Linked DNA regions of Homo sapiens. The protein of the gene in region 1 interacts with the protein of each later gene in a pairwise test. Each region holds a gene or a part of one and is shown in the gene's direction. Other genes may lie near its edges.

Region 1 (8,654 bases):
TTGGTGGAGTCTTTCGGTTTCTTTGCATTGAAGATCATGTCATCCAAAGAAGGACAATTTGACTCATTTCCAATTTTTGTTTGTTTGTTTGTTTGTTTGTTTGTGATGGAGTCTCACTCTGTCGCCCAGGCTGGAGTGCAGCAGCACGATATCTGCTCACTGCAACCTCCACCTCCTGGGTTCACACAATTCTCCTGCCTCAGCCTCCTGAGTAGCTGGGATTACAGGCATGTGCCACCACATCTGGCCAATTTTTGTACTTTTAGTAGAGACGGGGTTTTGCTGTATTGGCCAGGGTGGTCTTGAACTCCTGGCCTCAGGTGATCCGCCTGCCTCGGCCTCCCATATTGCTGAGATTACAGGCATGAGTCACCACACCCAGCCTGTTATTTCCAATTTGGATGTCTTTTATTTCTTTTTCTTGCTTAATTACTCTGGCTAGTACTTCTAGTACCATGTTCAACAAGAGTGGTGAGAATGAGCATCCTTGTCTTGTTCTAGTTCTTAGAGGAAAAATTTTCAGCTTTTCCCTGTTCAGTATGATGTTAATTGTGTGTTTGTTATATATAGCTTTTAATGTGTTGAAGTACATTCCTTCTGTACCTAATTTTTTGAGAGTTTTTACTGTGAAGAGATGTTGTTGAATTTTATCAAATACTTTTTCTGTGTCTATTGAAATGATCGTAAGGTAATTATATTTCATTCTGTTATACTCTTCATTCTGTTAAAACGTGATTATCACATTTTTTTATTTGCATATTTGAGCCTTCCTGTGTCCCTGGGATAAATCTCACTTGGTTATGGTATATTATCTTTTTGGTGTGTTGTTGAATTTGGTTTGCTAATATTTTGTTGAGGATTTTTGCATCTATGTTCATCAGGAATATTGGCCTGGAGTTTTCTTGTTGTGTCTTGGTTTGGTTTTGGTATCATGGTAGTGCTGGCTTTGTACAATGAGTTTGGAAGAATTCTCTACCCTTCAGTTTTTTGGGATAGTTTGAGAATTGGTATTTGTTCTTTAAAAGTTTTAATTCAGCAGTGAAGTCATTGAGTGAATTTAAAAGTACAGTTCAGCAGTGAAGCCATTTAGTTCGGGCTTTTCTTTGTTGGGAAACTTTTTACTACAATTCAATCTTGTTACTTATGATTGGTCTGTTCTAGTTTTCTGTTTCTTCTTGGTTCAGTCTTACGTTATATGTGCCTAGGAGTTTATCCATTTCCTCTAGGTTTTCCGGTTTGTTGGCATATAGTTGTTTCATAATGATCTCTGTAGTCTCTAGTGATCCTTGTATTTCTGTGGTACTGCTTGTAATGTCTCCCTTTTTGTTTCCGATTTTTCCGATTTTATCTGTTTGGGTCTTTTCTCCTTTTTTCTTTTCTTTTTTTTTTTCTTTTTTCTTTCCTTCTTCCCTTCTTCCCCTCCCTCTGCCTTCCCTACCCCCCTAACCCTGCCTTCCTTTTCTGTTTCCTTCCCTTCCTTCCCTTGCTACTATTTCTTCTCTCCCTTTTCTTTCTTTCTCTCTCTCTTTTTTTTTTTTTTTGACTGTCTCCCTCTGTCTCCCAGGTTGAAGTGCAGTGGCATGACCACGGCTTACTACATGTAGCCTTAACCTCCAGGGCTTAAACCACGCTTCTGCTTCAGCCTCCTTAGTAGCTGGGACTGCAGGCATGCACCACCACCTCTAGTTAATTTTTTAATTTTGTTGTAGAGATGAGGTCTTATTGTGTTGCTGAGGCTGGTCTTGAACTGGGCTCAAGTGATCCTCCTGCCTCACCCTCCCAAAGTGCTGGGATTACAGGTGTGAGCTACTGCACTCAGCCTCTTCTTTTTTCTTAGTCTAGCTCATGGTTTGTTGGTTTTTTTATTTTTTCAAAAAGCCACTTTTCATTTTTTAAGAAAATTATTTTAGATTCAGAGGGTACATGTGCAGCTTTGTTACATGGATATATTGTGTAACAGTGAGGTCTGGGCTTCTAAAATGTACTCTTCACTCAAATAGTGAACATTGTACCCAGTAGGTTAATTTTCAACCCCTACCCCTCTCCCCTCTTCCCTTTTGTAGTCCCTAGTATCTGTTATTTCCATCTTTATGTCCATATGTGTGTACCCATTGTTTATCTTTGACTTATAAATGAGAACATACAGTATTTAATTTTCTGTTTCTAAGTTATTTCACTTAGGATTAATGACCTCCAGCTCCATCCATGTTGCTGCAGAAGACATGATTTCATTCTTTACTATGGCCACATAGTATTCTATTCATGGTGTATATATATCACAAATTTTATTGTAAGATACCATAAGTAATATAATAAAAAAATAATTGGATACCCAGGAATAAATCTAAAGAGAGATGTGCAAGACATCTCTACTTGAAAACTACAAAACATTATTAAAAGAAAATAAAACCTAAATAAATTGAAGATATGTTCATGGATAGGAAGACTCAATATTCTTCCTTTCCATATATAGGAAGTCAGTTCTTCCATATATATATACATATCAGTATATACACAGACACATATACACATAGTCCCAGTAATGCAATCCCAGTTATAGCTCATTGTACTGCATACTTAGGATTTTATACTTTTCTTTATATGTGTTATAGTTCAGATAACAGTGTACTTATTAATAAAAACATTTTCACTAAAATATATGTATATGCTTTTAAGACATCTGGAGTCTTGTACATTTTTCATAAAATGAAGTAAATGATCTTACAAACCATTAATATTTTAGGGAAAAACGACAACTTCAGTTGTGATCTAAGTTAATCATGAATGCTGTCTCTGTTTTGTTACATTGGTTAGTAATATCAACCAGATTAGATAGTAGATTGGGAAACCCTTAGTATGAAACCAGTTGAAGGTGTATATTGAAATATCTAACTTTTTCTACCCTTTAGTTAAATGAAGCAAGTGAAGAAAACAGGAAGATAGACATTCAGGCTAAAAGAGTTCAAGCTCGTTTAGATAATTTACAGGTAAGTTGCCTGTTCTTCTCTACAGACAGAAGTATGTTTTTAGATGATTACCTTTGAGTTTACTCATTTAGATACAATTGTTCTTTAATTCACGCATATATACTGTTGCAGAGGAAGTACGAGTTTATGACAATACAGAGATTGAAAGGAAGTTCCCATGCTGTTCATGAAATGAAAAGTTTAAAACAAGAAAAAGCACCAGTTTCAAAAACTTACAAGGTAAGTTTGAATTATGATTTGATATGATTGAAAATTTCTCGGCTGGGTACGGTGGCTCACACCTGTAATCCCAGCACTTTGGGAGGCTGAGATGGGCGGATCACGATGTCAGGAGATCGAGACCATCCTGGCCAACATGGTGAAACCCCGTTTCTACTAAAAATACAGAAAATTAGCCAGGCATGGTGGCACACGCCTGTAGTCCCAGCTACTCGAGAGGCTGAGGCAGGAGAATTGCTGGAACCTGGGAGGCGGAGGTTGCAGTGAGCCGAGATTGCACCACTGCACTCCAGCCTGGGCGACAGAGTGAGACTCCGTCTCAAAAAAAAAAAAAAAAAAAAAAAAGAAAATTTCTCCAATGGAAAGCCAGGAAGATTTCTCTTGTGCTTTAATCTTTTCTCTTTGATTTAGCAAACATTCTTTTTGGAATGTTTGCTATGGAAGGGATTCACCATAATAATTTTTTAATAGGGAAATATCTCAAGAATATTTAAAATATACTTTCATTTGTGAAAACAAAACTATTATATTTCAGCAGTGTTTCAGGTACGTATCATTGACACATCATTAATGGCTTTATTGCTTAGTATGTTTTGACACTCCACAAGCATTTGCTATTATATTTCAGTCAAGACTACAACCCATCCCTGAATGGATTTCCATATGTCTTTTTTTCCCTAAGAATTTTTAAAATTTGAGATATAAATTACATATGGTAACATAATGCAGAAATCCTTTAGTGTAAAGTTTGATTAATTTTGATAAATATTTCATGTTGTCTATAACCAAATACAGAATACTTCCACTATCCTAGAATATAGAACTTTCCACTATCCTAGAAAGTTCTCTAATACCCTTTCCTGGTCATTCTTTTCTGCCAGAAGTTTTGCAGAAATTAGTTTTGCCTGTTTGAGACATTTGGTCAGTGGAATTGTATTGTGTGTACTTGTTTGTGTAAGGCTTTTCTCAGCATAATTATGAGTGTATCAGTAGTTTGTTCCTTACTATTGCTCAATAGTATTTCATTGTATGACTGTATCAGAGTTTGTTCCTTCATTCTTCTGTTGATAGACACCTGGGCTTTTTCTAGTTTTTGTCTGCAATAAATAAAGCTGCTACGAATATTGGTGTACAGAGTTTTTATGGATGTATGTTTTCATTTCTTTTGGATATATACCAGGACTACAATTTCTGGGTCATAAGGTCGATAAAGGTAGATGTATGTTTTTAAGAAACTGACAGTTTTCCAAATTGGTTGTACTGTTTTGTGTACAAATGGGAGTGTAATGATACACTCCCATTAACAGTGTATCAAAGTTTTGGTTGCTCCACAACCTTGTCAACATTTGGTGTTTTCAGTTTTCTTCATTTTGACCCTTCCAGTGGGTGTGTAGTAGTATCTTATTATGGGCTTTGATCATTTTGATATTTTGATAAATTTTCTAGTTCTTTATAAATTGAGAAAATTGGAGTAAATTGAAAAGGTACAGACTTTATATTCAGGGACTGAAGATAATCGAAGTTTTCATCTAAAGGGAGTTAGTTTCTATTTGAAAAAAATTGAGAAAGTGAAAAATTGCTCTTCAGAATAATGTGGTAATGCTACTATTTATCATTTTGTCTTTAGTCATTCTGATTGTGTGGATTGCCATCGGCTTAATGTTGCCTATTTATTAATTTGCTTTTATATTTCTCTGTCTTTGAATTTTTTTGTTTTTTTATTTTTTAATTTATTAATATTTTTAATTTTTTTTTTTTTGAGATGGGGTCTCACTCTGTCACCCAGGCTGGAGTGCAGTGGTGCAACCTTTGCCTTCTGGGTTCAAGCCTCCCGAAGAGATGGGATTACAGGCGCCCACCACCACGCCTGGCTAATTTTTATATTTTTAGTAGAGACAGCGTTTCACCATGTTGGCTAGGCTGGTTTCAATCTCCTGACCTCTGGTGATCCACCTGCCTCTGCCTCCCAAAGTGCTGGGATTATAGGCATGAGCCACCACATCTGGCCTGCAGATTTTTAAAAAAATAAATTTAACATAGTTCCCTCCTTAAGGTGGATATGTGTAGTGGTATCTTATTAAAAAAAATTGAATTAAATTAGAAATGTGTTTTGTAATAATACTTAGTCTAATTAAATTTATAAATTACTTTGTTATTTTACTTTTCATTTTGGTAGGCTGTCAGAGGACAAGATTTCTAGGAAAAAAATGTTCATATGTGTATTGAATGATATACTGGAAAGACAAAGTAACAATTTTTGTGAGAAGAGAAAGATAAGTTTCATAGTGGAAATTCTTTAGCTCTGGAAACCATTAATTTTTTTTAGAGTCTTTTAATTGTGGTGATTCATGCTCTTAAGTTAAGGCTAATTTTACTTTTTTTCCATCTTATCAAACTTGGATAAAGAATTTTTATGAAAAGTTTTCTTTTAGTAATAAGGTACAGTTATTCCAACTTCCTGATTATGACTTTTCTTGCCTTCTCTCAGTTGTCATTTAACATGTTTTTAATATTAGTTGGGGAGGTTTTTGGTGTTTTTTTTTTTTTTTTTTTTTTTGAGATGGAGTCTTGCTCTTTTGCCCAGATTGGTGTGCAGTGGTGCGATCTCGGCTCACTGCAGCCTCCACCTCCTGGTTCAGGTGATTCTCCTCCCTCAGCCTTCCGAGTAGCTGGGATTACAGGCATGCACCACCATGCCCAGCTAATTTTATTTTTAGTAAAGACAGGTTTTGCCATGTTGGACAGGCTGGTCTCGAACTCCTAGGGAACTTCAGGTGATCCACCCACCTCAGCCTCCCAAAGTGGTGGGATTACAGGCTTGAGCCACTGCGCCAGGCAGGTTGGGGAGGTTTGATTTGGAATTCTTTTGTTTGTTTGGAGAAGCTCTGTCCTTAACACATTTTAGTGAATTACTTTAGTCAAATTATTCTTATTACTTAACAAATTTAAGGTTTGTCTTTGAAGTTTTATGAAGTTGTGAACTGAAATAAATGATTTAATTTTTGACATATAGGTACCACTTAATGGGCAAGTTTATGAACTTTTAACTGTCTTCATGGACTGGATTTCGGATCATCATCTTAGCAAAGTGAAACATGAAGAATCTGGAATGGATGGTAAAAAACCACAACTCAAATTTGCTTCCCAGAGAAATGATATTCAGGAGAAGTGTGTAAAGGTTTGTTTTTTAATTTGAAATATGTGATTCAGAATATATGAAGATTAAAAAAGGAAAAGCCAGGGCCAGGCACAGTGGCTCACGTCTATAATCCCATCACTTTGGGAGTTCGAGCTGGGCAGATCACCTGAGGTCAGGAGTTTAAGACCAGCCTGGGCAACGTGGTGCAACCCCGTCTCTACTAAAAATACAAAAAATAGGTGGGCATTTTGGCACGTGCCTGTAATCTCAGCTACTTGGGAGGCTGAGGCAGGAGAAACGCTTGAATCTGGGAGGTGGAGGTTGCAGTGAGCCAAGATTGCAGCACTGCACTCCAGCCTGGGCAACAGAGCAAGACTCTGTTTCAAAAGAAAAAAACAAAAAACAAATTTGAGGGGCTGCCTCTGATGAGGCCCTTCTTCCTGGTCTCCTGCAGAGTCCAGAGGTGATGCAGGGTATCACATGGCTGGGGGCTGAGTGTGCTAGCTGAGGTCTGTCTCCCTTTTATAAAGCCACCAGTCCAGTTCCCATGATAATCCATTAATCCATGAACCCTTGGATGAATTAATGCTTTCATGAGGGCATCCCTCATAACCCAGTCACCTCTTTTTTAAAAAGCTTTTGTGTTAGAGATGGGGTCTCCTTGTGTCACCTAGGCTGGAGTGCAGTGGCCCAGTCATTGCTTACTGCAGCCTCCAAACTCCTAGCCTCAAGTAGTCTTCCTGCCTCATCCCTTTGAGTAGGGTCTACAGGTATACACCACCTTGCCAGCTAATTTTTAAAAAAAATTTTTGTAGAGATCAGACCTGGCTTCATTGCACAGAATGATCTTGAACTCTTAGCTTCAAGCATTCCTCCTGCCTTGGCCTCCCAAAGTGTTGTCATTACAGATGTGGGCCACTGTGCCCAGACCCAGTCACTTCTTAAAGGCCCCACTTATCAATACTGTCATATTGGGAATTAAGTTTCAACATGACTTTTGGAGGAAACAAACGTTCAAACCATAGCACATGGCAAAAGGGAATTAAAGTTGTTAATCAGCTGACCTTAAAATAGGGAGGTTATCCAGGATTATGTGGGTGGTCCTGGTAATCACACAAACTTTTTAAACCAGAAGGATTCAGAAGAGTAGGTCAGAGACTCAACCCCCTCTTGCTGGCTTTTGAAGATGGAGAAAGAGGGCCATGAGACATGGAATTCAGATAATCTTTTTTCTTTTTTTTTTTTGAGGCGGAGTTTTGCTCTGTTGCCAGGCTGGAGTGCAGTGGTGCCATCTTGGCTCACTGCAGCCTCCACCTCCCGGGTTCAAGTGATTCTCCTGCCTCAGTCTCCCAAGTAGCTGAGACTACAGGTGTGTGCCACCACGCCCAGCTAATTTTTGTATTTTTAGTAGAGACGGGGTTGCACTGTGTTGGCCAGGATAGTCTTGATCTCTCGACCTCGTGATCCACCTGCCTCGGCCTCCCAAAGTGCTGGGATTACAGGCATGAGCCACCGTGCCCAGCCATCAGATATCTTCTGGAAGCTGGGAATTGCCCTCAGCTGACAGTCACAAAGGACATACAAATCTCAGTGCTCTAACTGCAGCAAACTGGATTCCACATGCAACTTGAATAAGCAAGGAAATGGATCCTCCCTTAGCCTCCAGAAAGGAACACAGCTCTGTATATACATTGATTTTGGCTGGCTGAGACCCATTTTAGACTTCTGAACCTACAGAAGTGTAAAATAATGAATTTGTGTTGTTTAAATGTTAAGTTTGTGGTATTTGTTACGGCAGCAATAGGACACAAATACACCTTTGTTTAGAATTTTGTCTCTTAGTACCTACATCAATTATTTCCCTAAATCTAGCCTTATTTTAGAAGTAACTGCCAATTAGGAAGGCCTGCCGTATTAAAGTTCTGCAGAGAAATTTTATTTGTTAGAACTAGATGAGGGCTGGGCACGGTGGCTCATACCTGTAATCCTTGCACTTCGGGAGGTTGAAGTGGGAGGATTGCTTGAGCCTAGGGGTTTGAGATCAGCTTTGGCAACATGGTGACACCCCATCTCTACAAAAAATACAAAAGTTAGCCAGGCCTGGTGGCACGCGCCTATAACCCCAGTTCCCTGGGAGGCTGAGGTGGTAGGATCACCTGAACCTGGGGGGGTCGAGGCTGCAGTGAGCCGTGATTGTACCACTGTACTCCAGCCTGGGCAACAGAGTGAGACCCTGTCTGAAGAAAAATAATGGAATCGGGATCATGTAATACTGTGTTTTTATATTAGTCTAATAACACAAGAGAATA
Region 2 (8,654 bases), on another chromosome or scaffold:
AGGGGCCGACTGACACCTCATACAGCCGGGTCCCCTTCTGAGACTAAGGCTCCAGAGGAAGGACCAGGCAGCAACGTTTGCCATTCTGCAATATTTGCTTTTCTGCAGCTTCCGTTGGTGATACCCAGGCAAACGGTCTGGAATGGACCTCCAGCAATCTCCAACAGACCTGCAGCTGAGGGTCCTGACTGTTAGAAGGAAAACTAACAAAAAGGACATCCACACCAAAACCCCATCTGCATGTCACCATCATCAGACCAAAGGTAGATAAAACGACAAAGATGTGGAGAAACCAAAGCAGAAAAGCTGAAAATTCCAAAAATCAGAGCACCTCTTCTCCTCCAAAGGAACACAGCTCCTTGCCAGCAACAGAACAAAGCTTGATGGAGAATGACTTTGACGAGTTGAGAGAAGAAGGCTTCAAACGATCGGTGATAACAAACTTCTCTGAGCTAAAGGAAGATATTTGAACCCATTGCAAAGAAGCTAAAAACCTTGAAAAAAGATTAGACGAATGGCTAACTAGAATAAACAGCGTAGAGAAGACCTTAAATGACCTGATGGAGCTGAAAACCATGCCATGAGAACTACATGACGCATGCACAAGACTCAGTAGCCGATTCAATCAAGTGGAAGAAAGGGTATCTGTGATTGAAGATCAAATGAATGAAATGAAGCGAGAAGAGAAGTTTAGAGAAAAAAGAGTAAAAAGAAATGAACAAAGCCTCCAAGAAATATGGGACTATGAGAAAAGACCAAGTCTGCCTCTGATTGGTGTACCTGAAAGTGACGGGGAGAATGGAACCAAGTTGGAAAACACTCTTCAGGATATTATCCAGGACAACTTCCCCAATCTAGGAAGGCAGGCCAACATTCAAATTCAGGAAATACAGATAATGCCACAAAGATACTCCTCAAGGAGAGCAACTCCAAGACACATAATTGTCAGATTCACCAAAGTTAAAATGAAGGAAAAAATATTAAGGGCAGCCAGAGAGAAAGGTCAGGTTACCTGCAAAGGGAAGCCCATCAGACTAACAGCAGATCTCTCGGCAGAAACTACAAGCCAGAAGAGAGTGGGGGCCAATATTCAACATTCTTAAAGAAAAGAATTTTCAACCCAGAATTTCATATCCAGCCAAACTAAGCTTTGTAAGTGAAGGAGAAATAAAATCCTTTACAGACAAGCAAATGCTGAGAGATTTTGTTACCACCAGGCCTGCCTTACAAGATCTCCTGAAGGAACAACTAAACATGGAAAGGAACAACCGGTACCAGCCACTGCAAAAACATGCCAAATTGTAAAGACCATCGAGACTAGGAAGAAACTGCATCAACTAACGAGCAAAATAACCAGCTAACATCATAATGATAGGATCAAATTCACACATAACAATATTAACCTTAAATGTAAACAGGCTAAATGCTCCAATTAAAAGACACAGACTGGCAAATTGGATACCAAGAGTCAAGACCCATCAGTGTGCTGTATTCAGTAGACCCACCTCACATGCTGGGGCACACATAGGCTCAAAATAAAAGGATGGAGGAAGATCTACCAAGCAAATGGAAAACAAAAAAAGGCAGGGGTTGCAATCCTAGTCTCTGATAAAACGGACTAGATCAAAAGAGACAAAGAAGGCCATTACATAATGGTAAAGGGATCAATTCAACAAGAAGAGCTAACCTAAATATATATGCGCCCAATACAGGAGCACCCAGATTCATAAAGCAAGTCCATAGAGACCTGCAAAGAGACTCAGACTCCCACACAATAATAATGGGAGACTTTAACACCCCACTGTCAACATTAGACAGATCAGCGAGACAGAAAGTTAACAAGGATATCCAGGAATTGAACTTGGTTCTGCACCGAGCGAACCTAATAGACATCTACAGAACTCTCCACCCCAAATCAATAGAATATACATTCTTCTCAGCACCACATCACACTTATTCCAAAACTGACCACATAGTTGGAAGTAAAGCACTCCTCAGCAAATGTAAAAGAACAAATTATAACAGACTGTCTCTCAGACCACAGTGCAATCAAACTAGAACTCAGGATTAAGAAACTCACTCAAAACCACTCAACTACATGGAAAGTGAACAACCTGCTCCTGAATGACTACTGGGTGAATAATGAAATGAAGGCAGAAATAAAGATGTTCTTTGAAACCAACGAGAACAAAGACACAACATACCAGATTCTTTGGGACACATTCAAAGCAGTGTGTAGAGGGAAATTTATAGCACTAAATGCCCACAAGAGAAAGCAGGAAAGATCTAAAATTGACACCCTAACATCACAATTAAAAGAACTAGAAAAGCAAGAGCAAACACATTCAAAAGCTAGCAGAAGGCAAGAAATAACTAAGATCAGAGCAGAACTGAAGGAGATAGAGACACAAAAAACCCTTCAAAAAATCAGTGAATCCAGGAGCTGGTTTTTTGAAAAGATCAAAATTGATAGACCACTAGCAAGACTAATAAAGAAGTAAAGCGAGAAGAATCAAATAGATGCAATAAAAAATGATAAAGGAGATATCACTACCAATCCCACAGAAATACAGACTACCATCAGCGAATACTATAAACATCTCTACGCAAATAAACTAGAAAATCTAGAAGAAATGGGTAAATTACTGGACACATACACCCTCCCAAGACAAAACCAGGAAGAAGTTGAATCCCTGAATAGACCAATAGCAGGCTCTGAAATTGAGGCAATAATTAATAGCCTGCCAACCAAAAAAAGTCCAGGACCAGACGGATTCACAGCCAAATTCTACCAGAGGCACAAAGAGGAGCTGGTACCATTCCTTCTGAAACAATTCCAATCAATGGAAAAAGAGGTAATCCTCCCAAACTCATTTTATGAAGCCAGCATCATCCTGATACCAAAGCCTGGCAGAGACACAACAGAAAAAGAGAATTTTACACCGATATCCCTGATGATCATTGATGCAAAAATCCTCAATAAAATACTGGCAAACCGAATCCAGCAGCACATCAAAAAGCTTATCCACCAAGATCAAGTTGGCTTCATCTCTGGGATGCAAGGCTGGTTCAACGTACACAAATCAGTAAACGTAATTCATCATATAAACAGAACCAAAGACAGAAACCACATGATTATCTCAGTAGATGCAGAAAAGGCCTTCAACAAAATTCAGCAGCCCTTCATGCTAAAAACTCTCAATAAACTAGGTATTGATGGGACGTATCTCAAAACAATATGAGTGATTTGTGACAAACCCACAGCCAATATCATACTGAATGAGCAAGAACTGGAAGCATTCCCTTTGAAAACTGGCACAAGACAGGGATGCCGTCTCTCACCATTCCTATTGAACATAGTGTTGGAACTTCTGGCCAGGGCAATCAGGCAGGAGAAAGAAATAAAGGGTATTCAGTTAGGAAAAGAGGAAGTCAAATTGTCCCTGTTTGCAGATTACATGGTTGTATATTTAGAAAACCCTATCGTCTCAGCCCAAAATCTCCTCAAGTTGATAAGCAACTTCAGCAAAGTCTCAGGATACAAAATCAATGTGCAAAAATCACAAGCATTCTTATACACCAATAACAGACACACAGCCAAATCATGAGTGAACTCTCATTCACAATTGCTTCAAAGACAATAAAATCCCTAGGAATCCAACTTACAAGGGATGTGAAGGACCCCTTCAAGGAGAACTACAAACCACTGCTCAATGAAATAAAAGAGGATACAAACAAATGGAAGAACATTCCATACTCATGGATAGGAAGAATCAATATCGTGGAAATAGCCATACTGCCCAAGGTAATTTATAGATTCAATGCCATCCCCATCAAGCTACCACTGACTTTCGTCACAGAATTGGAAAAAACTACTTTAAAGTTCATACAGCACCAAAAAAAACAGCCCACATTACCAAGACAATCCTGAGCCATTAAAGTGATCATTAAAAAGTCAGGAAACAACAGATGCTTGAGAGGATGTGGAGAAATAGGAATACTTTTACACTGTTGGTGGGATCGTAAACTAGTTCAACCATTGTGGAAGACTGTGGCGATTCCTCAAGTATCTAGAACTAGAAATACCATTTGACCCAGCCATCCCATTACTGGGCATATACCCAAAGGATTATAAATCATGCTGCTATAAAGACACATACACATGTATGTTTATTGCGGCACGGTTCACAATAGCAAAGACTTGGAACCAGCCTAAATGTCCATCAAGACTGGATTAAGAAAATGTGGCACATATACACCATGGAATACTATGCAGCTGTAAAAAAGATTGAGTTCATGTCCTTTGTAGGGACATGGATGAAGCTGGAAACCATCATTCTGAACAAACTATTGCAAGGACAGAAAACCAGACACCACATGTTCTCACTCATAGGTGGGAATTGAACAATGAGAACACTTGGACACAGGGTGGGGAACATCACACACCGGGGCCTGTCGTGGGTTGGGGGGAGGGGGGAGGGATAGCATTAGAAGATATACCTAATGTAAATGATGAGTTAATGGGTGCAGCACAGCAACATGGCACATGTATACATATGTAACAAACCTGCACGTTGAGCACATGTACCCTAGAGCTTAAAGTATAATTAAAAAAAAAAAAAACGTGATGGGAAAGAATTAGGTATACCTCTGTGAAAAATCAAAACATCTGTACATCAAAACTAGAATTAAAGGCAGATAATAAAATGAAGAAAACTTTTTCCCATAGAAAAATGGGCAAAGGAAATTCATGAAAGGGAGAAAATTAGCCAATAACATATATGAAAAGATTTATACTTTGATGGAAATGGAAAATAACTAGGAGTAGCATATTTTTCTCATTAGAATGGCTATGATTCTTCTTTGACCCAGTAACTTTTTAGTTTTTAATTATTGATCATTAGAAAATCTTTTAAGACTGATTGCCTGAGGGAATTCTCACTATTTAATAATGCTAAAGTGAAAAAACCTACATATTTGTTTTGTCTCAATTTATTTTACACATATAGGAAAAAATTTAAATAACCAAATGACAGTCATTATCTTTGGGTAATAGGATTATTGGTTATTTTTCAGTGTGTTTTTTCTCAGTCTTCTACATTTACTGCAGTCAACATAATTTTATAATCAAACTTGAAGCGGACTTTAGAAAGTACTTAAAATGCGGATTTTAAAAGTATTATTTTTGTGTGCTTGACTGTAACTCTATAGTTGGTTTCTACATGTGCTCCTATTAATAAAATGTATTAATAAGTAATAGTTACTAATACATTTACTAATTTTAATTAATAAGTAATATATTAATAAGACAGTAATGTACTTTAGGACTGTTATGTGAACTTTGTATGATTGGCTAAATTTTTTACCACTTTATAAAAGTCTTTGAAATTTTTTTACCATAGTAATGGGGTTTTTACTTGAGCACATTTCAAACACTCAATGTCTTTTTTTTAATTTATTATTATTTTTTGTGAGACAGAATCTCACTGTCGCCCAGGCTGGAGTGCAATGGTGCGATCTCAGCTCACTGCAACCTCCACCCCTCCACACTCCCCACCCCACCCGGGTTCAAGCGATTCTCCTGCCTCAGCCTCCCGAGTAGCTGGGATTACAGGCGCCCGCCACTATGCCTGCCTAATTTTTTTTATTTTTAGTAGTGACAGGGTTTCACTGTGTTAGGCTGGTCTCGAACTCCTAACCTCAGGTGATCCACCCACCTCAGCCTCCCAAAGTGCTGGGATTACAGGTGTGAGCCACCGCACCCGGCCCACTCAATGTCTTTAAATTGATTTTTTAAAAAACAAATATGAGATAATTAACATTTTATTGTTCCCAAAGAGTGATCCTCCACTGGACTCATCCATCAATTTTATTTTTTATTTAGATGAGTTTATTCTTTCTTAATATACTTTCTCCGCATATGCTGTTACAGCATCCACGTTTGTGTTTGTATTTGGCAGCCATATTTTCTGCTCTTAAGAATCTTCAAGATAAGATTCGACGCTTGGAACTTGAGAGGATTCAGGCAGAAGAAAGTGTGAAAACCTTGTCTAGAGAAACAATTGAATATAAGAAAGTACTGGATGAACAGATACAAGAAAGGGAGAATTCAAAGAATGAGGAATCAAAGCACAATCAAGGTTTGTTGATGAAGAAAATTAAAATTCTATCAAAATAAGTGTTGTGCAGTATTAAGTATTCTAAAAGAAATAGTACATTAGTGTTTTGTAGCGGTATCTTCAAGTACTACAAAACTGCATTGTATTCTGGTGCATTTTGAGGAGCAAATGCTGTTGTCATACATGGCATTTATTTACTGAATGCAAGGCCAGTTTGACTAGCACGTAGAAAGAATGATTTAGGTAATCTGAAAAGGCGTCCAGGTCTGTGGAAGGTGTTTTTATTGTATACACAATAGATCCAATTCCTGTTAACAGCTTGTTAAAACTATTTTATGGGTGAGTTGATTTCTGCTTTTCTTATGTATTCTTTTTAGAACTGACATCTCAGTTGTTAGCTGCAGAAAATAAATGCAATCTATTAGAAAAACAATTGGAATACATGCGAAATATGATAAAGCATGCCGAAATGGAGAGGACATCTGTCTTAGAGAAACAAGTAAGTAAAGCACCTCACAGATTGATACTCAAGAACAGTTATGGGGAAAACTAATTGAATAAAGACTTTTTTTCTTTCGGTGAGGATTAATGGTGCTGTTACAGCCCAGGACTGAAATTTCTTGGCATCAGTTATGAAATCTAAATATGTGATTGGCTTTTTCTTGTTGTTATTGTTGTGTTTCGTAGAGTTTTACTTAAATGGTAAAAATACAGTTGTGAGATGTTTGAAAGTTATGTTAGCTTCTTTGAGTCTACATTATAAAAAGTGTAAATAACCATATACCTCTGTATCTCTGAAATTTGTTTAATGACTCCAGTGAGATAGTAGATGACTTTGTAAAACTCTTCAGAATTGTTACTTAGCATAGCATTTTTGTGCTTTCTTACACCAGAGATCTTCGTATTTAGGTGACCTGTACATTTGTGAGAAGATATCTCAACATCAGTCTCAAATATATTGATTGATCAATTGATTGGATCTCACTCTGTCTCACTCTGTCACCCAGGCTGGAGTGTAGTGGCATGATCTCGGTTCACTGCAACCTCTACCTCCTAGGCTCAGGTGATTCTCATGCCTCATCCTCCCGAGTAGCTGGGATTACAGGCGCATGCCACGATGCCCAGCTAACTTTTGTGTGTGTGTGTATTTTTAGTATAGATGTGGCCAGGCTGGTCTCAAACTCCTGGCCTCAAGTGATCAGGCCGCCTCGGCCTCCCAAAGTTCTGGGATTACGGGCATGAGCCACTGTCCCTGGCCTTGTGTGTATTTTTTTTTTTTTTTTTTTTGAGACGGAGTTTCCCTTTTATTGCCCAGGCTGGAGAGCAACGGCGTGATCTCAGCTCACCGCAACCTCCACCTCCCGGGTTCAAGTGATTCTCCTGCCTCAGCCTCCCAAGTAGCTGGGATTACAGGCATGTGCCACCACACCCGGCTAATTTTGTATTTTTAGTAGAGACAGGGTTTCACCATGTTGGTCAGGCTGGTCTTGAACTGCCAACCTCATGTGATCCGCCTGCCTTGGCCTCCCAGAGTGCTGGAATTACAGGCATGAGCCACCACGCCCGGCCAGCCTTGTGTATATTTTTTTAAAACTTACTCCTTTTTCTGTTATGAATCTAGAGTTTGCATTCATTAGTTTTGTAGACATCTTAACTCTATTATAAAATCGGATTGTTTATATGCTTAACATTATGCTAGATGCCCTGCAATGGAAAAAAAAAATACTAGGCAGTTGTCCTTCAGTATCCATGAGTGAATTGGTTCTCAGACCCCTGTGGATAGTAAAATCCATGGATGCTCAAGTCTCCTATAAAATGGTGTGGTATTTGCGTATAACCTACACCCAATCTCATATACTATAAATTATCTCTAGATTACTTATAACACCTAATGCAATGTAAATGTTATGTAAATAGTTGCTGTACTATATTGTTTGGAGAATAATGTCAAGAGTAAGAATCTGTGTATGTTTAGTACAGATTCAACCATCCTTTTTTGTTTTTTCTCGTATATTTTCAATCCACAGTTGATCAAATCCATGGATGCAAAACACACAGATACAGAGGGCTTACCGTGTATGCTTTCTACCCTCAGTCAGCTTTCAGTTCTCATTGGAGAGAATTAGACTTAAATATTTGAGCAATCATACAACAGTATTTGAGAAGATGTCTCAGTAATTAATTCTTGTGTGTGATAGGTCTCTTATTTCAGTGGTTATAATTTTTCATTTTCATTTGGGTCTTTTTCCATCCACTTAGTTTTGTTCTTTGAATGTACTGTTACTCTGTGGTTTTTATACCTTCCTTCTATCTCTTTGAACGCTATAAACAATTCTCAATTTTTTTTAATTATTTGATGTTTTCAAAGTGTTAATCCTCGTTTGTTTGGCTTTATTTATTGATTCTCCCTTATGGTATCTTTTTTTTTATGGGAACTTAATAAAGAAAAGTTATATGGTGGTCTCATTTTTTCATTTATTGTGTTAATTCCACAATAAATTCCTCAGTTGTGTGGGCAGCCTTGTGAGCCAGTTG
Region 3 (8,654 bases), on another chromosome or scaffold:
GCAAAAATGTAGCTGGGCATGGTGGCTCACAACCTGTATAGTCCCAGCTACGTGGGAGGCTGAGGCAGGAGAATTGCTTGAACCAGGCAGCTGGAGGTTGCAGTGAGCCGAGATTGCGCCACTGCACTCCAGCCTGGGCAAAAGAGCGAGACGAGACTCTGTCTCAAAAAAAAAAAAAAAAAAAAAAGATAGAAACTAATCACACATGCTGTCCCACCAATACCAACCTTTGTTTCTTCTAGGATTCCCCACAGCCACCAGCTACACCCCTGCCAAGGAGTCGTTCTCTGAGCGGCCTTGCTTCCCTCTCTGCCAACACTCTCCCTGTGCACATCACAGATGCCACCAGGAAGAGGGAATCTGCAGTCAGGTGAGTGGTCAGGCTGCACGAGACCCATGCTCTGATTCTGGCCCCAAATGCTGGAAACCTCCCTGCCAAGGGGCCTCCTTTCCTGTTATCAGAGATACCTCAAGGGGTCAAAGGGAATTTTCTGATCAGGACTGGAACAATTGCGGTTCTCCACACCTGGTGCTTGGAGAACAGCTAGCCATCATTCAGCACATATTCATAGTGGGCTTATTCTGTGCCAGGCACAGTGTTAAGGCTGGAGATCTTAGGGAACCTCCAGTTTATTATCTAGTCTGAAATACAGAAAAGCAAAGAAGCAATGGCCATATTTTTTGAGTAGTGCAATGATGGGGGGTAAAGGGGACTGTGAGGGCACTGGGCAGCCTGGAGCAGGGGGGTCTTGTCTTGTGGAATAGATGTCTAAAGTGAAACTGAAGAACAAGGAAGAGTTCGCCAGACAAAGCCTGGAGAGAAGGAAGGTTCCAGACAGAGAGAACATGGATAAAAGCCCATGGGTGAGAGGAAGGGAGTAGTGAGGAACAAGAATTCAGAGAAGCATGCTAGCAGGTGGCTGAAGTTGCCGCAAATATGAGACATCCATTGCATAGATTTGAGATTCTCTGAGATTCATCTTGGGAAGATGTCAGAGTCTGTTGGGCAGCAAGAGCCTGCTTATTTTTAACTCTTCAACTGACCTGATTCTGTTATGATGTTCTCATTAAGCCAGCCCCCAGCAAGGGTTCTTCCACCAGGCTTCTGAGCTGAAGTAGGCAAGAGAGGTCATGGTGTAACAGCAGCTTAGGCCAGGGAGAGGACTAATGTCTTACTGCCTTCCCATGGGGCATGTAGGGGAGTACTCAGAACCTACTTGGATCGTTAAGCCCCACAGCAGGGATTGTAGAAGAGTATTTACGGTCCAAGGGATACTCCTTTCTTCTTCAGACTTCAGTTAGACCTACTAAATCAGGGCTAATTAATTGCTCAGTATCCTGAGGGCCCAAGAACACAGGCCTCCTGAACAAAGAGGCTGGCCTTCCTATAGAGGACATCCACATCTGCTTTCCAGCCACAGGGAATCTGACATATTAACAGATTAAATTTTCATGTCCTTCTTCCCAGTATGTCCATTTGAATATAAACATCCAAATATAAGAGTCTTGGTTGATTTTCCTTTTGGAAGAACTCAACATATTACTTTGTAGATAACTGAACAAACTAAGTGCTACAAGTTGAACCCAAATAGTCTGCACTGAGGGAGGCTCATTTCCAGTTCTCTCTGAATGTGCAGATTTGTATTCCCAAAGGACCATGAACCCAGACACCTTCCAGCCCACTGTTTCCAGCAGAGTGGTCAAGGCCAGAGGCTTCGGAGTCAGAGGTCCTGGTCCAATAGGGGCTTTTCCACTGGCATGCTGGGTAGCTTTGAGCAAGGGGCTTACCTCCTTTGAGCCTCAATCACCTCCCCTATAAAAAGGGAATTTAGTATTTACCTCATAAGGCAGTTATGAGGACAATGTGAAATGTAATGGTACTTGGTTCATAATAAGGAGCTCAGTAAATGGTAGCTATTAGTATTATTTTGTATCCAGATAGGCGAAGACCTATTGAATGTTGGACTGTTTAAGTAAGGATATATATATTTTTTTTCGAGACAGAGTCTTGCTCTGTCGCCCATGCTGGAGTGCAATGGCGCAATCTCAGCTCACTGCAACCTCTGCCTCCCGGGTTTAGTGATTCTCCTGCCTCAGCCTCCCAAGTAGCTGGGATTACCGGCACGTGCCACTACACCCAGCTAATTTTTTTTGTAGTTTTGGTAGAGACAGGGTTTCACCATGTTGACCAGGCTGGTCTCGAACTCCTGACCTTGTGATCAGCCCGCCTCAGCCTCCCAAAGTGCTGAGATTACAGCCATGAGCCACCGTGCCCGACCTAAGTAAGGATATTTTAACTGACGTTTCTCCAGTTCAGTAAATGCACTTCTAGGGTAGGAACTCACTGTGTCCCTAGTGCTGGAAAGGCTTCATCTGCCAGTGCATTTAATCCTAGAATTTTATTATTTTTAAAAATGGCAGTTGAGGTAAATTACATGCCCCATTCATTAAAAACACCAACTTACTTTCCAGAAAAGGTTACTAAGATTGCTTTATTTTATTTATTTATTTATTATTATTTTTTGAGACGGAGTCTCTCACTGTCGCCCAGGCTGGAGTGCAGTGGCACGATCTCGGCTCACTGCAAGCTCCGCCTCCCAGGTTCATGCCATTCTCCTGCCTCAGCCTCCCGAGTAGCTGGGACTACAGGCGCCCACCACCGCACCCGGCTAATTTTTTGTATTTTTAGTAGAGATGGGGTTTCACAGTGTTAGCCAGGATAGTCTCGATCTCCTGACCTTGTGATCCGCCCGCCTCGGCCTCCCAAAGTGCTGGGATTACAGGCATGAGCCACCATGCCCGGCTATTTTATTTTATTTTATTATTATTATTATTTTTGAGACGGAATTTGATCTGTCGCCCAGGCTGGAGTGCAGCAGTGCGATCTTGGCTTATTGCAACCTCTGCCTCCCGGGTTCAAGCGATTCTCTTGCCTCAGCCTCCCGAGTAGTTGGGATTACAGGTGCACACCACCATGCCCAGCTAATTTTTGTATTTTTAGTAGAGCTGGGGTTTCACCGTATTGGCCAGGCTGGTCTTGGACTCCTGACCTCAGGTGATCCACCTGCCTTGGCCTCCCAAAGTGCTAGGACTACAAGTGTGAGCCACCACACCTGGCCTAAGATTGCTTTTCAGTATACCCAGGTTGGTAATCTATACTCTTTTTCTGCCTCCTTCCTTTAGAAGTGCACTTGAAAAAAAGAACAAAGCAGATGAGAGTATTCAGTGGCTGGAGATACACAAAAAGAAGTCTCAAGCAATGTCCAAATCTGTGACCTTGCGTGCAAAAGCCATGGATCCCCATAAAAGCCTGGAGGAAGTGTTCAAAGCAAAGCTGAAAGAGAACCGGTCAGTGTCCTCTATGTGTCAAAAGGGGTGCTTGCCTTGGGATCCAACAGACCACTGGCCTATTGCCAGAAAATGCAAAATAGAGTTATCGAGGTAGGTAGGCTCCTGTAATCACAGCAGGGTCATGATTTTCCAAGTCAGATAGGAATTTACAGTGTACACGAGAGTTACACTGCTTTACTGGAAATGAAGGGTATTCTGGATTAGAAAAGATGAAATTCTTTCTAAAAGTCTTGCTAATTCCAGGAACAATGACCGTAAAAGAGCGAAAGAATATAAGAAAGAACTGGAGGAAATGAAGCAGCGAATACAAACAAGGCCCTATCTCTTTGAACAAGTTGCCAAGGTAAAACTAAACCATCATTTGTTTTCTTTCTGCCTTAGATAAAAGGACTCTGAAAAATTACAAAACAATTTTAATATGTGGGTATTAAAATTTTCCTTGAGGCCCAGAAATTCTAATTTCACTACTACCTTCTTTTCCCAAAATAAATAGTACAATAGAGAATGCTGCTTGTGTTGATTTCATCCAAGAGTGGACTCCAAAGGCATCGATAAAGGGATATTTCACTTCCTAGAGCTTTCACTGTAGTCTACCATTCAGATTTCATCAGACTGGGCATTAGACCCCAGAGACACAGGGACCATTTGGCTCTTTCTATGCTCTGGAGCCACTGTTCACAGTGCTGGAAAGGTATCTCTCCTCTGGCAGTGCTGCTGGCCCTGGGCCTCCCCAGCCTCTAGAGCTGTGGTATATTTATAGGTCTCCAAGCATTAGGATGCCCACAAACACCCTGCAAGGCTTTCTCTAGACTAAGTGGCTTTCAGGCTGGAAGCCTGAAATTTTTTTTTCTTCTTTTATTTTGTATGCATGTGTATGTGTGTGTGAGTGTGTGTTCCTTATGGAGCAGGGCTAACCCATAGGCAGTGTACCCGAAGTATCCTGGAAGAGTATCATTTTAAGATATTCTCTGTAGACTTTTAGGGATGTTGGACTCAGCTGAGATCTCCGTAAGGATGTAAGGATGCTCTGTTTCTACTGCATTAGGCTCTGTGGATCTCTTTCCTCTCCAGTTTCAGACAAGTTGGGGTTCCATAGTGACCTAGTTCCAATGGCAGGGCATTAGCTCCATCTTATAGTTAGTACATTGTCTAGGCATTTGCTGGCTCCACTTCCTCCTCCCTCCATAAATCTTTCTCCTCTCACACACATAAGCACACATGGTCTTGGATTTACTTAGCAACCTGCATTGTTCAAAATCTCATGCTTCTTTATGTTAATGTTAAGCAAGCTCACTCTTCAGATCTCAACAGATCTTTCACCTCTCTAGGAAAAATACAAAGTACTCTATGATTTTGTTCTTGAATACTTAAACAAAAAATAATATTCTGCTGGTCCACATGCAGACCATCTGTCCTTCCACTAAGAGTCTTGGTGTAGCTTATTTTCTATTTTATTTTAGTGTTCCTGATAATGGTTTGTTGCTTTAAAATCTTAGGTTTTTAGTCCATCCTTTTAAATCTGGGTCTCATTTGTCTCCCAAAAGTCTAAGTCATTGCTTTTCAAAATTGTGACTCCCAAATCAACAGTTTGGCATCTCTGGGGAGTGTTAGAAATACAGAATTACAGTCCTCATCTGACACCTACCAAATGTGAAATCTGCATTTTAACAAGACCTCAGGTGATTTATATACACATTAAGGCTGGAAAACAAGGGTTAAATAATTTTCTTGCAAATCTATGCCCCACAATAAGGGTGGTGGTGGTTGTGGCAGTATTGTAACAATACTGATTAAGTAATTTAGAATTGTCTGGTAATTCATAAGACAGCTACAACAGATTAATTTCCATCCCACAGGATCTAGCCAAGAAAGAAGCAGAACAGTGGTATCTAGACACCCTGAAGCAGGCTGGGCTGGAGGAAGACTTTGTGAGAAACAAGGGTCAAGGCACCCGGGCTGTTCAAGAGAAAGAGACCAAAATCAAGGATTTTCCCAGGTAACCTGAAATGTTGCTGTCATTCTGCAGCTCTCTAAATTGTCATACCCAGTAATACCACTGGGAGGAAACTTTAGAATAGCCACTGGTATTTTGAGATCATAATCCTGTATTTATGTAACATTAATAAGTAATCCAGAGATCTCCAAGTAACACATTTGAATTTAGAGAGTGATGCAGTTGTGAATAAAATCTGACAAATTATGTTTCGTTTTCTTCCATTTTGAAACAGATCATTTTCCAATTCCAGTTCCAATTTCATGAGCTGAAACTATTTCTACTTTATTTTTGAAGAAAAATCATGTATATTTTGACTTCTTATAAAACTATAAAACTGTTTTTCTAGCATTCCTTAAAGGTAGCTCATTAGTATCACCTTCTCCATAACCTTTTTTTTTTTATTTTTTGTATTTTTTTTTTGAGACAGAGTCTCACTCTGTTGCCCAGGCTGGAGTGCAGTGGCGCGATTTCTGGCTCACTGCAAGCTCCGCCTCCTGGGTTCACGCCATTCTCCTGCCTCAGCCTCCCGAGTAGCTGGGATTACAGGCTCCCGCCATCACGCCTGGCTAATTTTTGTGTATTTTTAGTAGAGACGGGGTTTCACCATGTTAGCCAGGATGGTCTCGATCTCCTCACCTCGTGATCTACCCTCCTCAGCCTCCCAAAGTGCTGGGATTACAGGCGTGAGTGACCGCGCCCGGCCCTCCATAACCCATTTTGATATTGAGTCAAAGGGAGAAAATAGTATCTTCTCTCCATTATTCTCAATTGTTTTGTATCTTAAATCCTAGCAGCCCCTACCCTAATTCCTATCTCAGTTTTATACCCCTAGAAATTTTCCTTTACATCCCATATAAAATAGTAATAATGTTGAGACTTTTTTTTTTGAGACGGAGTCTTGCTCCGTCGCCAGGTTGGAGTGCAGTGGCGCAGTCTTGGCTCACTGCAGTCTCTGCTCACTGCAGTCTCCGCTTCCCGGGTTCAAGCGATTCTCCTGCTTCAGCCTCCTGAGTAGGTGGGACTACAGGTGTCCACTACCACGCCCAGCTATTTTTTGTATTTTTAGTAGAGATGGGGTTTCACCATGTTGGCCAGGATGGTCTTGATCTCTTGACCTCGTGATTCACCTGCCATGGCCTCCCAAAGTGCTGGGAGAGACCGTTCTTAAACCTTACACAGTGCTTTAAGACTTTCTTTTTTCAGACTGGGCACGGTGGCTCACGCCTGTAATCCCAGCACTTTGAGAGGCTGACGTGGGTGGATCGCTTGAGCCCAGGAGTTTGAGACCAGCCTGGGCAACATGGCAAAACCCTGTCTCTACAAAAAGTTAAAAAAAAAAAAAAAATTAGCTGGGTGCAGTGGCACGTGCCTATAATCCCAGCTACTTGGGAAGCTAAGGTGGGAGGATTGCTTGAGGTGGGAGGGTTGCTTCAGCTGGGCTGTCCAGGCTGCAGTGAGCTGAGATCATGCCACTGCACTCCAGCCTGGGTGAGAGTGAGACCCTGTCTGAAAAAAAAATTTTTTTTGTTTTTCATGTTTTAATTTATTCTGCAGGTTCCAAGAAACTACAAAACTCAGCATCAGAGATCCAGAGCAGGGTTTAGAAGGATCTCTAGAACAGCCTGCAAGCCCCAGGAAAGTACTGGAGGAGCTGTCTCATCAGTCACCAGAAAATCTCGTATCACTTGCTTAATCACTACACTTAAAATTACTGCTTTTGAAAAATATTAAGCAGCTAACTTGGGTTTGAGTCAAGGCAGGGAAAACTTGGGTTTTGAGTCATGGCTACTGTTAGAGGATGGACAAATGAAGAGTAGCAGATTAACAGGCCAGGCGCAGTGGCTCACGCCTGTAATCCCAACACTTTGGGAGGCTGAGGCAGGCAGATCATCTGAGGTCAGGAGTTTGAGACCAGTCCAGCCAACACGGCAAAACTCCACCTCTACTAAAAATACAAAAATTAGCTGGGCGTGATGACACGTGCCTGTAATCCTAGCTACTTGGGAAGCTGAGGCAGGAGAATCACTTGAACCCAAGAGGCAGAGGTTGTAATGAGCTGAGATCACTCCACAGCACTCCAGCCTGGGCAGCAGAGCAAAACTCTGTCTGAGAAAAAAAAAGAGCAGCAGATAACAGAGAATAGTTCAAGGAAATCAAAGTGGGGAGGCTCAGGTGGAGGGATGGTAGCCTAAAGTTAAGGGTTCCTGCTTTGTGCCTCACACTTAGAGAATTAGGTACAGAAAAGAGAGCACAGGCCCAAATGCCTATAAGGGGCTAGTGCAGAAACATAAATGCGTCCATGGAGTGGGTGTAGACAGTAGGAGATAGTAGACACTGGAAAGTATCAAATCCTGCTGGAATATAGGCTCAGAGTTACTACATCAACTACATTTTCATCAAGCCAGAAATTTGTATGCTATCAACTAATTTAAAAATTACTTAGAAATATTGTATGGGCAAAATAAAATACATCTGCATATCAGATCTAGCCCATGGGGGATGAAAAACTTACAACTTCTAGTACAGGATTTCTTATCCTCAGTGCTATTAATATTTTGGGCCACCTAATTCTTTGTTGAGGGTTGGGGAAGGGAACTGTCCTGTACATTGTAGAATGTTTAGTAGCATCCCTGGCCACTACCTGCTAGATGCCAGTAGTACCCCTCTCCCCAGCTGTGACAACCAAAAATGTCTCCAGATATTGCATATCCCCAGGGGGCAAAAATGTGCCTGGCTGAGAACCACTGCTCTAATATAAATGGCTGCATGAAGCAAAAACTGGCATTCTAAGAATACAAGTAATTGCCATGAACACAGTCTATGTACTATGTGATTATGCATGTCATTAACAAATTAAGAATTTAAAACAATTCTCTCCCGTTATCTGTTTAGAATGTGCCTGTGTGTTTATGTGAGCATGAGGTTCATTTTAAGTAAACTTAAAATTTCCCAGACAACCAAGATTTTCTACTAGTAGGTGAACTTTGGAATAATTTTCTTCTCACCAATAATAATTGGATATTCTGGCTCGGTGCAGTGGTTCATGCTTGTAATCCCAGCACTTTGAGGGGCCAAGGCAGGAGGATCGCTTGAAGCCAGGCGTTCAAGACCAGCCTGGGCAACACAGACCTCATTTCTACCAAAAAAACCACAAAAAGTTAGCTGGACTGGTGGTACATGCCTATAGTCCTAGCTATTCAGGAGGCTGAGGTGGGAGGATGCCTTGAGCGTAGGAGTTCAAGGTTACATTGAGCTATGATTACACTACTGCACTCCAGCCTGGGTGACAGAGCAAGACCCCATCTCA
Region 4 (4,897 bases), on another chromosome or scaffold:
ACGCACTCTTCAAACCCTTGAGATTGAACTTCAGTCCCTCTTAGCAACGGTAAGCGAAAAGTTACAAAACAGATTTGCTTTAGAAATTGAGAAAAAAATAATCGAAGAGAATTTTCTTCCAACATAATTACATATTTTAGTTTTTAACCATTAATTACAGTGCTTGACATAAGACATATTTGCATTTTGCACATGACAATCCTCTTTGCCTACAAAGTATAGCTGGATGCCAATAATTATGAAATATTAGAAATTAGCAAATACAGTCAAGATACTGGAAAAAGAAAATCGTTTTGACTTTGAATCTTCTATCATAAGTCAAAATATCAAAAACCACTCATATGTGGAGGCTAAAAAAGTTGATCTCAGAAGTAGAGAGTGGGATAAGTGCTTACTAGAGCCTGGGAAGGGGATGGGGGGATAGGAAGAGGTTGGTTAAAGGATACAAAATTACAGAGAAATAGGGAGAATCAGTTCAAGTGTTCTATAGTACTGTAGAATGACTACAGTTAAGAATAATTTATTCTATAATTTCTAATAGTTCAAGGAGAGGATTTTGAATGTTCCCAACACACACAAAAAAGATAAATGTTTGGGACCATGGATATGCTAACTGCCCTGATTCTATCACTACACATTGTGTGTTTTGAAATATAATTATGGAACCCCATAAATATATACAATTCTTATGTGTCCATTTAAAAAAAAAGAAAAAAAATCCTACTGCTTAAAGAGAGCAAAAATACATTTGCACCACTCCTAGCTTCATCTAGCATTCCTTTTGGCCACTCAATTAAGAGCACTTACAAGTTCCTTTGTAAGTGGCATAGACAGAGGAAAAGTCGAGGCATGAAGGCTGACTATAAAACTAAACATGTGTAATGATAATCATAACTGCTTTCATTAAGGGTTTGCCCAGCACTTCCGCCCACATGTGAGTCCACAACAACCCCGGGGCATGGGCAGGGCAGACGTTATAACTCATGTCATTATTTCCAAAAGAGGACTCTGAGATTCGAAGAAGTTAAGCAATTCCCACAGTCCCACAGTTGGGTATGAAGGAATCCAGAAGTTCTCTCCAAATTTTCTAACTCCCAAGTCTATACTTTTCCCACTATGGCTAGTAAACCACCAGAGTTTATCCACAGATGAGGCTATGAATGTATATAAAATCAAGACTTTATATAAAAAATACTTGCAGGTGAAAGGATAAGACACTCTCATCTTCATTCCATGTAAAATTGCAGTGAGTGTTCCCTCTGAGTATATCTGTAAACCCATTCAGATTCACAAGCCAATGAATTGAACTACTGTATTTAAAGTCTAAGAAGGTAATTATTTTCTGTGGTTTATTCTACTCATGGAACGTTTATGCGGTTTACTGCAGGATGACTTTTTAATAGAAGAGCTACAATCCTCATAAGACAAGACTGTCACATGGCTAGAAATGAGTAGCAAAGTATAGGCGGACTTCTAGTTGTGGGTAAAGTAGCAAATTGTGCCACACTCTACAAGCACAGGCTATATTGGTGCAGGGGAGGGATCTTTCAGTCTGTGCCCTATGAAGAGACAATTTCATCTTTTTTAGCACACCTGGGCATCTGAGGGACATTCAGCACCAGCTGTGTCATTCTCAAATAGAAAAGTAGTAGGACATTTAATAAAGGCAACAATTAATATTGAAGAAGTGGAATCTTTTGGGTAAATATAATTATTTGCATGATGTAAGGATAATTCTCTTAATTATCTCTTAAATGCTTTGGCTTATTCTAAAACACCGTGACCTTTTCTATTAAACCATGTCTTACCAAACTACAGAAACACTCCCTGGAGTGCTCCTTGACAGAGACCGAGAGTAACTACTGTGCACAGCTGGCACAGATCCAGGCTCAGATCGGGGCCCTGGAGGAGCAGCTGCACCAGGTCAGAACCGAGACCGAGGGCCAGAAGCTCGAGTATGAGCAGCTCCTTGACATCAAGGTCCACCTGGAAAAAGAAATTGAGACCTACTGCCTCCTGATAGATGGAGAAGATGGGTCAGTATTGCCGCCATTGAGAAAACAATTCATTTTTAAGGTTACTAAAGATGATTTGAAATCAAGTACAAAATATCTATGATCTAGATCACGCATAGATAATACTCTTTTAGTGTTATTTCAGAATGCAGTGAATTCCCACCTTAAATCATTATTTTTCAGTTTCCTCAGTAAAACAGAATAATTAATATAAGCGCTCTATACTTTTACAGCTCCTGTTCTAAATCAAAAGGCTATGGAGGCCCAGGAAATCAAACAAAAGGTAAACAAAAGCTGTGTTAGGCATTCAGTGTTTATTTGTATGTGTTTCAAATGATGTTTTATTTCCTATTTATGAATTTGATAAATTCTAAACAGTTTATATGTGGCATTTTAGATTCATCTAAAACCACCATTGTCAAAACAGTTGTTGAAGAGATAGATCCTCGTGGCAAAGTTCTCTCATCCAGAGTTCACACTGTGGAAGAGAAATCCACCAAAGTCAACAACAAGAATGAACAGAGGGTGTCTTCCTGAACTCCAGCCTCTGAGACAGAATGGCCCCCAAATTAAAATACCAAAATGAAGCTAGTTTCCTAAATAAGGGTCCCCTTATTTTTCTGCTTTTCTTCCAATGAATTAAGACAAGTTATTTTTAGAATAGTACCATTTCTTTGGCTTTTTCTCTATGGTGGTGTTTCAATAAAAGTTCTTCCTGTTGCAAGTCATCTTCCCTGGTTCTGGCCAATCTTTGCATTTTAGATATACCCTCCCAAATGGAAGCTGAATTTTGTCTTTAATTTCTTCTGTTTAATTCAACAGTCTTCACAAGTTGGAAGTAAGTTTAATGTGAAAACTAGTTGGAGTCTTTTTGACTTCTCTGTAAAATTTTGTCTCCTTTGTCTCAGTACGAAAAGTACTTACTGAGAACACGCTATGTGCCAGATAACGAGGATAAAACAGTTAATAAGATCCAGTCCCTGAAGTCAATATGCTCATAGATGTAGAAATAAGAACCTGAAGAATCAGAAACAAACTTAAACATAAAGGAAAGGCTATAAGTAGTGATATTTGAAGGTAGAAGGGGAAAAAGAGAGCTGTGAGGACAAGGGTAAGAGGAGAATTCCAGCAGGCATCTAATTCATAATCTTGATCACTCCACCATAACGGTAGGAATTCACAAGTTCTCTCCTTCGTTTTTGCCATCCAAGACTGCAGAGCCATGTGGCTCTCAAGTCAAAGGTAACTTTTAGTGCAATAATTTCAGCACCTACCATTAATGAATCTATTTCAAGGCTGGGAGTGGGAGGAGGTTAAACTCAGCAGAAAACCCTCCAGAGGTTTATTTGTGGGTGAGAGATTTGGCTCCCCCTCACCAATCCCGTAACAGAAACAGCCTGTTTTTCTCTGGAACCAGTGTCCTATTACTGAACTCTGTAGAATTGGCTCAGCACAGTTGAAACACAGTCACTTTCAAGCTGTCTTTCCTCCTCTTTTTCCCACACGCATGTAATAATACCTAAGCGAATGTAAGGCAGATACCCTCTCACTTAACTTTTTAATTAACCAGTCCTCACATCATATACCCTCATATCAAAATTAGGAAAAGGAAACATCCTACCACGTAAGAGTTGAAAAGTTACATTCACGCAAAAACCTGTGCACAGATGTTTATAACAGCTTTATTCGTAATTGCCAAAACTTGGAAGCAACCAAGATGTCCTCTTGGTTGACGAATGGATAAATAACTGTGGTACCTCTAGACAACAAAATATTATTTAGTGCTAAAAAGCTATGAGCTATCAAGCCATGAAAAGACACAGAGGAACCTTAAATGTATATTACTAAGTGAAAGAAGCCAATCTGAAAAGGCTACATACTGTATGACCCCAACTATATGACATTCTGTACAAGGCGAAACTATGGAGATAGTAAAAAGATAATTGGCTGCCAGAAATTGGAGGTGAGGGATGCACAGGCAGAACACAGAGGATTTTTAAGGCTGTGAAAATACTCTGGATAATATCATAAGAACGGATACGTGTCATTATACATTTTCCAAACCCGTAGAATATACAACACTAAGAGTAAACGGTAATACTAAAAAGTCTTTAATTTTTTTTTTTTTTTTTTTTTTTGAGACAGTCTCGCTCTGTCGCCCAGGCTGGAGTGCAGTGGCGCCATCTTGGCTCACTGCAAGCTCCGCCTCCTGGGTTCAAGCCATTCTCCTGCCTCAGCCTCCCGAGTAGCTGGGACTACAGGCGCCTGCCATCACGCCCGTCTAATTTTTTTGTATTTTCAGTAGAGACGGGGTTTCACCGTGTTAGCCAGGATGGTCTCGATTTCCTGACCTCGTGATCCACCTGCCTCGGCCTCCCAAAGTGCTGGGATTACAGGCGTGAGCCACCGAATACTTAGCTCAGATTTCACAGTATTTGAAACGCCTGACCACCAACTCACCATAACTCAGGAAATAAATTCTTTCTGCTAAAACCAGGCCAATATTTAAAACCTTTAAATATGACTTCCAGGAAAGAGTCAATAATAGTTGATAACCAGCACTTACTAGGTGCTAGACTCTGTTCTAAGCATCATTTATTCCTCACAACAACCCTATGAGGTAGGTACTGTTATCGTCCTCGTTTTACAGATAAGGAAACGGAGGCAGAGACTGGTTGAATAATTTGCCCAAGATCACACAGTAATAACATGAAGTGCTGAAATACGTAAACCACACAGAATAGCTCAGAGTCTGGTGCTTCACCACGACATAATACCATGCTAGTGAGAACTTTATGACTCCACCTTCCCTATAACAAGAGAAGGGATAAAGAAACTACGTGCATGCTCACTCCAGTCGGTCTGAGATTAGCAGAGACATC

Evidence for each region.
Region 2: the proteins of CCDC138 (region 1) and CEP57 interact in binary tests that used the Homo sapiens proteins (3 or more experiments, as listed by UniProt).
Region 3: the proteins of CCDC138 (region 1) and FAM161B interact in binary tests that used the Homo sapiens proteins (3 or more experiments, as listed by UniProt).
Region 4: the proteins of CCDC138 (region 1) and KRT27 interact in binary tests that used the Homo sapiens proteins (3 or more experiments, as listed by UniProt).

Annotation. Positions count from the first base shown.
Region 1 is NC_000002.12:108,809,722-108,818,375, forward strand, and holds part of CCDC138 (coiled-coil domain-containing protein 138), read left to right. Parts: intron 1-2,909; coding exon 2,910-2,987; intron 2,988-3,098; coding exon 3,099-3,206; intron 3,207-6,219; coding exon 6,220-6,384; intron 6,385-8,654.
Region 2 is NC_000011.10:95,806,972-95,815,625, forward strand, and holds part of CEP57 (centrosomal protein of 57 kDa), read left to right. Parts: intron 1-5,960; coding exon 5,961-6,140; intron 6,141-6,496; coding exon 6,497-6,618; intron 6,619-8,654. UniProt on the Homo sapiens protein: Centrosomal protein which may be required for microtubule attachment to centrosomes. May act by forming ring-like structures around microtubules. Mediates nuclear translocation and mitogenic activity of the internalized growth factor FGF2, but that of FGF1.
Region 3 is NC_000014.9:73,932,642-73,941,295, reverse strand, and holds part of FAM161B (protein FAM161B), read left to right. Parts: intron 1-242; coding exon 243-370; intron 371-3,183; coding exon 3,184-3,348; intron 3,349-3,594; coding exon 3,595-3,694; intron 3,695-5,207; coding exon 5,208-5,347; intron 5,348-6,901; coding exon 6,902-7,040; 3' UTR 7,041-8,654.
Region 4 is NC_000017.11:40,774,654-40,779,550, reverse strand, and holds the end of KRT27 (keratin, type I cytoskeletal 27), read left to right. Parts: coding exon 1-49; intron 50-1,818; coding exon 1,819-2,036; intron 2,037-2,248; coding exon 2,249-2,298; intron 2,299-2,412; coding exon 2,413-2,552; 3' UTR 2,553-2,743; downstream 2,744-4,897.